Homo sapiens: one gene and its partner. The protein of the gene in region 1 purifies or fractionates together with the protein of each later gene. This does not show direct contact. Each region holds a gene or a part of one and is shown on either strand. Other genes may lie near its edges.

Evidence for each region.
Region 2: the proteins of ERGIC1 (region 1) and HIGD1A fractionate together in Homo sapiens (co-fractionation; one large-scale study listed by BioGRID). This does not show direct contact.

Annotation. Positions count from the first base shown.
Region 1 is NC_000005.10:172,840,737-172,844,553, forward strand, and holds part of ERGIC1 (endoplasmic reticulum-Golgi intermediate compartment protein 1), read left to right. Parts: exon of another isoform or gene 1-134; intron 135-3,817. UniProt on the Homo sapiens protein: Possible role in transport between endoplasmic reticulum and Golgi.
Region 2 is NC_000003.12:42,797,770-42,801,586, reverse strand, and holds part of HIGD1A (HIG1 domain family member 1A, mitochondrial), read left to right. Parts: intron 1-3,817. UniProt on the Homo sapiens protein: Proposed subunit of cytochrome c oxidase (COX, complex IV), which is the terminal component of the mitochondrial respiratory chain that catalyzes the reduction of oxygen to water. May play a role in the assembly of respiratory supercomplexes.

The DNA of each region.
Region 1 (3,817 bases):
TGCAGTCCCAGATGCCAGCTTCAGCAGCACCTTGGAGCTTGTTGGAAGTGGAGAATCTCAGTGCCCACCTGGAATCTGAATTTGTATTTTAACAAGATCCCCAGGTGATTCATGTATTCATTAAAATGTATAAAGCCCTGGTCTGTATGATTGATTTGACTCAGTGTCCTCCAGTCTGTGTCCCTCCATGCCGCACTGGCTGCCTCACTGAGGACTCTGAAGAGTCCGGCACTGAGCGAACCAGAGTTATTTGGTTCAGCCCAACATTTGCCACATGTATAGTCTCAGATGCCCTGTTGTTTATGGAGCAGCTAGTGCCATTTCTCAAAACACAGTTTGGGAAACACAGCCCTAATTGATCCTTTAAGGAAGTGGCAATTAGCCTAATTGTCTGTTGTCAGCTTTAACTTTTAGGTCTATTAACTTAATTACATTGATTGTATATGTGGGAAAAGTACAGGACAGGAAAAAAACCTCCAACGCTGGCTGTCTTTGTTTAAAAAAAATCTTGACCCACGGGAGAGGCAGGGTGAACTCAGGGTTCTCCATACAGCCAAGAGCCAGGGGACATGTGGGGTCCTTTACAGATACCTCTTCTCCCTCTGAGTGGGCATGATCCTTCCTGTTTTATGTCCAGGGAAACCGACCCTCAGAAATGCTGGGAAACAGCTGGTGCCTCTGACAGCGTAATCCTCATGCCCTTGACAATTAGCCTTCCTCCTGGCACCTGCCAGGCAGCACAGCTACACAGGAAGGCAGATCCGCTTGAAATGGACAAACCATTCTGTTTCTCCAAAAGGTGGAAACCCTATTCGAGATGAGAGGCCTGGCTGTAATTACAGTTAGTAAAGTCAGAGGACCCGGATGTCCCTGATGTACTGGGGACTGGCGTTGTGATAGCCCCTCCATGCATTAGCTTTCCTTTCTCAGATTCTGGTCTGGGTCTTGAATATCTTTGGAGGAGGAGAAGTAATGCTCATCTTATTAGCAATACCTCACGGCCCTTCAGCTTGTAATGTCTTGAGCACTGGGCTAGGCATGTCATTGGACTTATAAAATCACACTGGCCTTACAGACAGATACAATGATTCATGATTTATTTTCTTTGTTTTATTTTTAAAGTTAGCATATGATAAAATTAATGTGTGTTTGTGCACTCTTCTATGAAAGTTAAGGCTTGTTTATCATGTAATCACCACCATCCAGATACAGGACAGCTCCATCTCTATCACCCCTCACATCTCATGCTGTCACTTTATAGTCATACTATTAATTTGGTTATTTTTTGTGTGGTAAGAATACCTAACATCAGAGCACCCTCTTTTTTGAGACGGAGATTCCTTCTTGTTGCTCAGGCTGGAGTGCAATGGCGCAATCTCGGCTCACTGCAACCTCCACTTCCCAGGTTCAAGCAATTCTGCCTCAGCCTCCCAAGTAGCTGGGATTACAGGCATGCACCATCAAGCCCAGCTAATTTTGTATTTTTAGTGGAGATGGGGTTTCACCATATTTGCCTATTTTAGATACTTCATGTAAGTGGAATCATGCAGTCTTCATTCTGTGTCTGCCTTATTTCACATAACGTAATGTCCACCAGTTTCATCAATGGTGTCACAAATGACAGAATTTCCTTTTTTAAGGCTGAGTAATATTTCAAGGTGTATATATACCAATATTTACCCATTAATAGACATTTAGGTTGTTTCCACATCTTGGCAGTTATGAATAATGCTGCAGTGAGCATGGGAGTGCAGATGTCTCTGAGATCCTGATTTCAATTCTTTTGGATAAATACCCCAAAGTGGGACCGCTGGATCCTATGGTAGCTCTATTTTTAATTTGTTGAGAAATCTTCCTCCTGTTTTCCATAGTGGCTGCACTATCTTTCCTCCCCACCAACGGTGTACAAGCATTCCCTCTCCCCACATCTTGCCAACATGTCTTTTGTTTTTCTGGTAATAGCCATCCTAACAGGTATGAGGTGCCATTTCATTGTGATTTTTATTTGCATTTCCCTGATGAATAGAGATTTTGAGCATCTTTTCAAGATCTTGGCCATTTGTATGTCTTGTTTGGAGAAATATCCATTCACATTTTTTGTGCTTTTTAAAATTGGAGGGTTTTTGGCCAGGCATGGTGACTCACACCTGTAATCCCAGCACTTTGGGAGGCCAAGGTGGGTGGATCACCTGAGGTCAGGAGTTCGAGACCAACCTGGCCAACATGGAGAAACCCCATCTCTACTAAAAATACAAAAATTAGCTGGGCATGGTGGTATGCGCCTGTAGTCCCAGCTAGTTGGGAGGCTGAGGCAGGAGAATTGCTTGAACCTCCGGGAGGCGGAGGTTGCAGTGAGCCGAGATTGTGCCACTGCACTCCAGCCTGGGTGACAGAGTGAAACTCCGTCTCAAAAATTAAATAAAATAAAATAGAAGTTTATTTTTGCCACTGAGTTTAAGGAGTTGCTTATATATTCTGGATATTAGCCCCTTATCAGGTGTATGGTTTGCAAATGTTTTCTTCCATTCTGTAGTTGCGTTTTCACTCCGTTAATGTTTTCTTTATTCAGTTTTAAAATGGTAAGCCAAGGCACAGAGCTGGAATGGGAGTGGCCCAGGACACAGCTGGTGAGGTGCAGAGCTGGGGTCCCAGAGCCTGGCACCTCACATGGTGCTATCCTGCTTTGCTGATTTTTCTTGCTGATTTTTATTATTCTTCACTAGATCTTCTCTCCCCTCCCACTTTCACACCAACATATAGAATTACCTAAAGTATCCTTTAAGAACTTTGGGAAACCCTGGTGATATTTGGCGTGTTTTGATGTCTTGCTGGGTCCAAGAGTATGTTCATGGTGTGCAGAAAGAGTCTCCAAGTCTTCAGGGGAAAGTGGTATGTAGCGGTCCAACCCTGGCCACCCTTTCTGAATGGTCTTCGCCCTTGCAAACCCCTCTGGGGACTGACCACAGGTCCCCTGCGGAACGCTGTGAAGTGCCCTTGGAACTGACCCTCACATTGCACTCATTCGGCAGAACTCTCTGGATTGAAATCCCTTCCTCAGTGTTTACCAGCTGTGGGGCCCAGGACAAGACACTTTGCCTCTGCAAGCCTCAGTTTTCCTCATCTGCAAATTGGGGTGCTCATACTTTCTTTGCGGGGATTTTGTGAGGGTGAGATGAGCTCATGTGGAATGTGAGACAAGTATACTTGGAGGCGGGAGGACATTTCCCTCTCCTCTGCCTTTCCTGGCGGCATAGTCCTGTGCACCTCACCGAGCCGTGATAGATGGCAGTAGTGGGTCTTCTGGTAGGTGGACGTGGTAAAACCAGGGCCTCCGGGGTTTGCAGGGCACAGATACAATCACATGGGAACACCTGAGATGGTCAGACCCAGAGTTAGACCCCTCTCCCTTTGTGGTACCCACACAGCCATAGACGTCAAACACCAGTCTGTGGTAAGGGAGAAAGTGGCCAGAGGGTCACACACTCAGGCGCCCCTACCTATCAGCAAGTACCTCAGTCGGTGATTGGGCAAGATGTGGGCCATGGCCACCTGGAGCGCGAGGCCCTGTGGGGAAGGGACAGCTGACATGCAGCTCTGTTGCTTACTGCCTACAGATGCCCTGATTTTTCAAGAGACAATGAAAATCTGATAAATTGCGTGAAAATGGTTGGCCACTGATCTCAATTTTATTTCTGTTAAACACCAAACAAATCCTTCTGAGGGCTGACGATAGCCTATGACAGGCAGGGTGCCGCCTCTGTGTCGCACATGGCAGTGTGACCAGGACAAGCTCGGGGTGGGCAGGACCTTGGGCTCG
Region 2 (3,817 bases), on another chromosome or scaffold:
ACTCAATATTACTGAATAACCTAAGAATGCTTTCAGTTGTTGAGAAATGTAACTTTTAAATGTATTCAAGAAACATTTGTAGTGTACATATTATATATAGGGTATTGCACCAGGCAGTGGAGTTGGATACAAGCAGAGCAGGTATTGGTCCCTGACTTGAAGGATTCTAGCAAAAGAAACAGACAAACTGGTGCTTATAAGGGTTATAAGGAAAGTACAAGGTCCTATGGGACTGCATAACCAAAGCACTTACGAACTTAAAGAGACAAAAATTTCTGAGAGGAGGTCAATTAAGATGTGAACCTGAGTCCAGTATGGTGGCACCCAGTGGCAGTGTGAACTGTGAGGAGTTCGCCGAGTTCCAGGAATTACTCAAGGTGATGTGGACAGTTGATACAGACTAGTACATTAATTAAACACTACAGTTCCAACAGCTTCCTTTGCAGGGAAGATTGATGCCAGCCAAACCTGTAAACAACTTTGAGTCTTTGATGGCAGCTCATGCCAGTAGGGACAGAGTCATAAAAAACTATATAGCCCAGACCTCAGCAGTAGTAAAAAACCTCTGAGAAGAGAGAGAAAAGAATTTGGACGATTTAATATTGTTAAAGCAACTCAGAACAGAGCAGGCAAAGTTGAAATGGATGTAGTCAGAATGATAAATGACAGGAGCTGGAAGGAGTTTAATGAATGCTGCCGAATTCACTTCAAACCTCCAAATAAACAGAATAAACGGAGATACTTTTTTTTTTTTTAAAGGACCGGGTCATCTCATAAGAGCTAAGCATGACAAATGTCAACAGGGCGGGCTTCCTAGGATGATTTCTGAGCCAGTAGTCCAAGACCTTTTGTTGATTTCAGCCCCACTTAGGCAAGACCTCAAATATAAATAATTCTGATAATTATGGAGAAATCAACTGCTATTTTATACTGATTCTGTTAAAAAAAAAGTTTTGTAACTATTAAAATAATGTTCTGACTCAGTGTAAAAAAAGAAAAACCAAACCTGAAAAAAAAAATGGGAGGAGTTAGCTAGGAAAGAGTATCTGAAGGGGATGGAAAGGGAGGGAAACTCTCACAAGTAGAGGAATCAGCTTGTGCAAAGGCTTAGAGGTATAGAGAGCATCTTAAAAATATTTAATGTGGTCAGAATGTGGGGTTGGGAAGGGAAATGAAAGGATTTGTGATAAACTTCCCCTTTGAGAAGGTCATGTTTTTTTTTTCTTTTTCTTTTTCTTTTTCTTTTATTTTTTAAAATTTGAGACAGAGTCTCTCTGTGGCCCAGGCTGGAGTGCAGTTGCACAATTTCAGCGCACTGCAACCTCTGCCTCCCGGGTTCAAGCGATCCTCCTGCCTCAGCTTCCCAAGTAGCTGGGATTTCAGGCATGCACACCACTATGCCCAGCTAATTTTTGTATTTTTAGTAGAGATGGGGGTTTCACCATGTTGACCAGGCTGGTTTCGAACTCCTGACCTCAAGTGATTGCCCACCTTGGTGCCCCAAAGTGCTGGGATTACAGGCATGAGCCACCGCACCTGCCCGAGAAGTTCATGATTAGATATGAAGGCAACTAGTAAACATACTGGCCTAAAATAAATACAGTGTTTAATCTCTCTATCCAGTCCATTTATGCAGTTTCTTCAAAGCCAGTCTCAAGTGTTTCTCTGTGAAACGTGCCAAACCTCCTTTAGCTAAAATACATCACTCTCTCTAAATTCAGACCTTGTCTGTGTTAGGCTTTTGACAACTAATTACACTGTGATTGAAACCACCATTGCAAAATTATAACTGAGACAGTGAAAGAGATCTGACCTAGCCAAAAAAAGATGGAGCCAGGCATGATGGTTCACGTCTATAATCCTAGCACTTTGGGAGGCTGAGGCGGGCAAATCACTTGGGGCCAGGAGTTTGAGACCAGGCTGGCCAACATGGCAAAACCCCATCTATACTAAAAATACAAAAAAAAAAAACCAGGCATGGTGGTGCACACCTGTTATCCCAGCTGTTAGGCTAAGGCACAAATCACTCAAACCTCGGAGGCAGAGGTTGCGGTGAGCAAAGATCGAGATCGTGCTCCAGCCTGCGTGGCAACTAGACCCTGTCTCATAAAACAAAAATAGAAAAATAAAGCAAAGATGGTAACAGCCCTTTCCTAAAACAAACCCCCTTCTTGCCTGGGGACTAGACTGCCTTTGTAGGTTTAATGAATTAGCCACAGATTAGAAATTATGGTTTAGGAGTCGTGCAGCTGGAAGTTATAAGATTCTTTTTTTTTTTTTTTTTTTTTTAATTTATTTTTTTATTGATAATTCTTGGGTGTTTCTCACAGAGGGGGATTTGGCAGGGTCATGGGACAATAGTGGAGGGAAGGTCAGCAGATAAACAAGTGAACAAAGGTCTCTGGTTTTCCTAGGCAGAGGACCCTGCGGCCTTCCGCAGTGTTTGTGTCCCTGATTACTTGAGATTAGGGATTGGTGATGACTCTTAACGAGCATGCTGCCTTCAAGCATCTGTTTAACAAAGCACATCTTGCACCGCCCTTAATCCATTTAACCCTGAGTGGACACAGCACATGTTTCAGAGAGCACAGGGTTGGGGGTAAGGTCACAGATCAACAGGATCCCAAGGCAGAGGAATTTTTCTTAGTGCAGAACAAAATGAAAAGTCTCCCATGTCTACTTCTTTCTACACAGACACGGCAACCATCCGATTTCTCAATCTTTTCCCCACCTTTCCCGCCTTTCTATTCCACAAAGCCGCCATTGTCATCCTGGCCCGTTCTCAATGAGCTGTTGGGCACACCTCCCAGACGGGGTGGTGGCCGGGCAGAGGGGCTCCTCACTTCCCAGTAGGGGCGGCCGGGCAGAGGCGCCCCTCACCTCCCGGGCGGGGCGGCTGGCCGGGCGGGGGGCTGACCCCCCCCACCTCCCTCCCGGACGGGGCGGCTGGCCGGTCGGGGGGCTGACCCCCCACCTCCCTCCCGGACGGGGCGGCTGGCCAGCCAGAGGGGCTCCTCACTTCCCAGTAGGGGCGGCCGGGCAGAGGCGCCCCTCACCTCCCAGACGGGGCGGCTGGCCGGGCAGGGGGGCTGACCCCCCCCACCTCCCTCCCGGACGGGGCGGCTGGCCGGGCGGGGGGCTGACCCCCCCACCTCCCTCGCGGACGGGGCGGCTGGCCGGGCAGAGGGGCTCCTCACTTCCCAGTAGGGGTGGCCGGGCAGAGGCGCCCCTCACCTCCCGGACGGGGCGGCTGGCCGGGCAGGGGAGCTGACCCCCCCCACCTCCCTCCCGGACGGGGCGGCTGGCCGGGCGGGGGGCCGACACCCCCACCTCCCTCCCGGACGGGGCGGCTGGCCGGGCGGGGGGCCGACCCCCCCACCTCCCTCCCGGACGGGGCGGCTGGCCGGGCAGAGGGGCTCCTCACTTCCCAGTAGGGGCGGCCGGGCAGAGGCGCCCCTCACCTCCCAGACGGGGCGGCTGGCCGGGCGGAGGGCTGACCCCCCCACCTCCCTCCCGGACGGGGCGGCTGGCCGGGCAGAGGGGCTCCTCACTTCCCAGTAGGGGCGGCCGGGCAGAGGCGCCCCTCACCTCCCGGACCGGGCGGCTGGCCGGGCGGGGGGCTGACCCCCCCACCTCCCTCCCGGATGGCACGGCTGGCCGGGCGGGGGGCTGACCCCCCACCTCCCTCCCGGATGGGGCGGCTGGCCGGGCGGGGGGCTGACCCCCCCTCACCTCCCTCCCGGACGGGGTGGCTGCCGGGCGGAGATGCTCCTCACTTCCCAGATGGGGTGGCTGCTGGGCGGAGAGGCTCCTCACT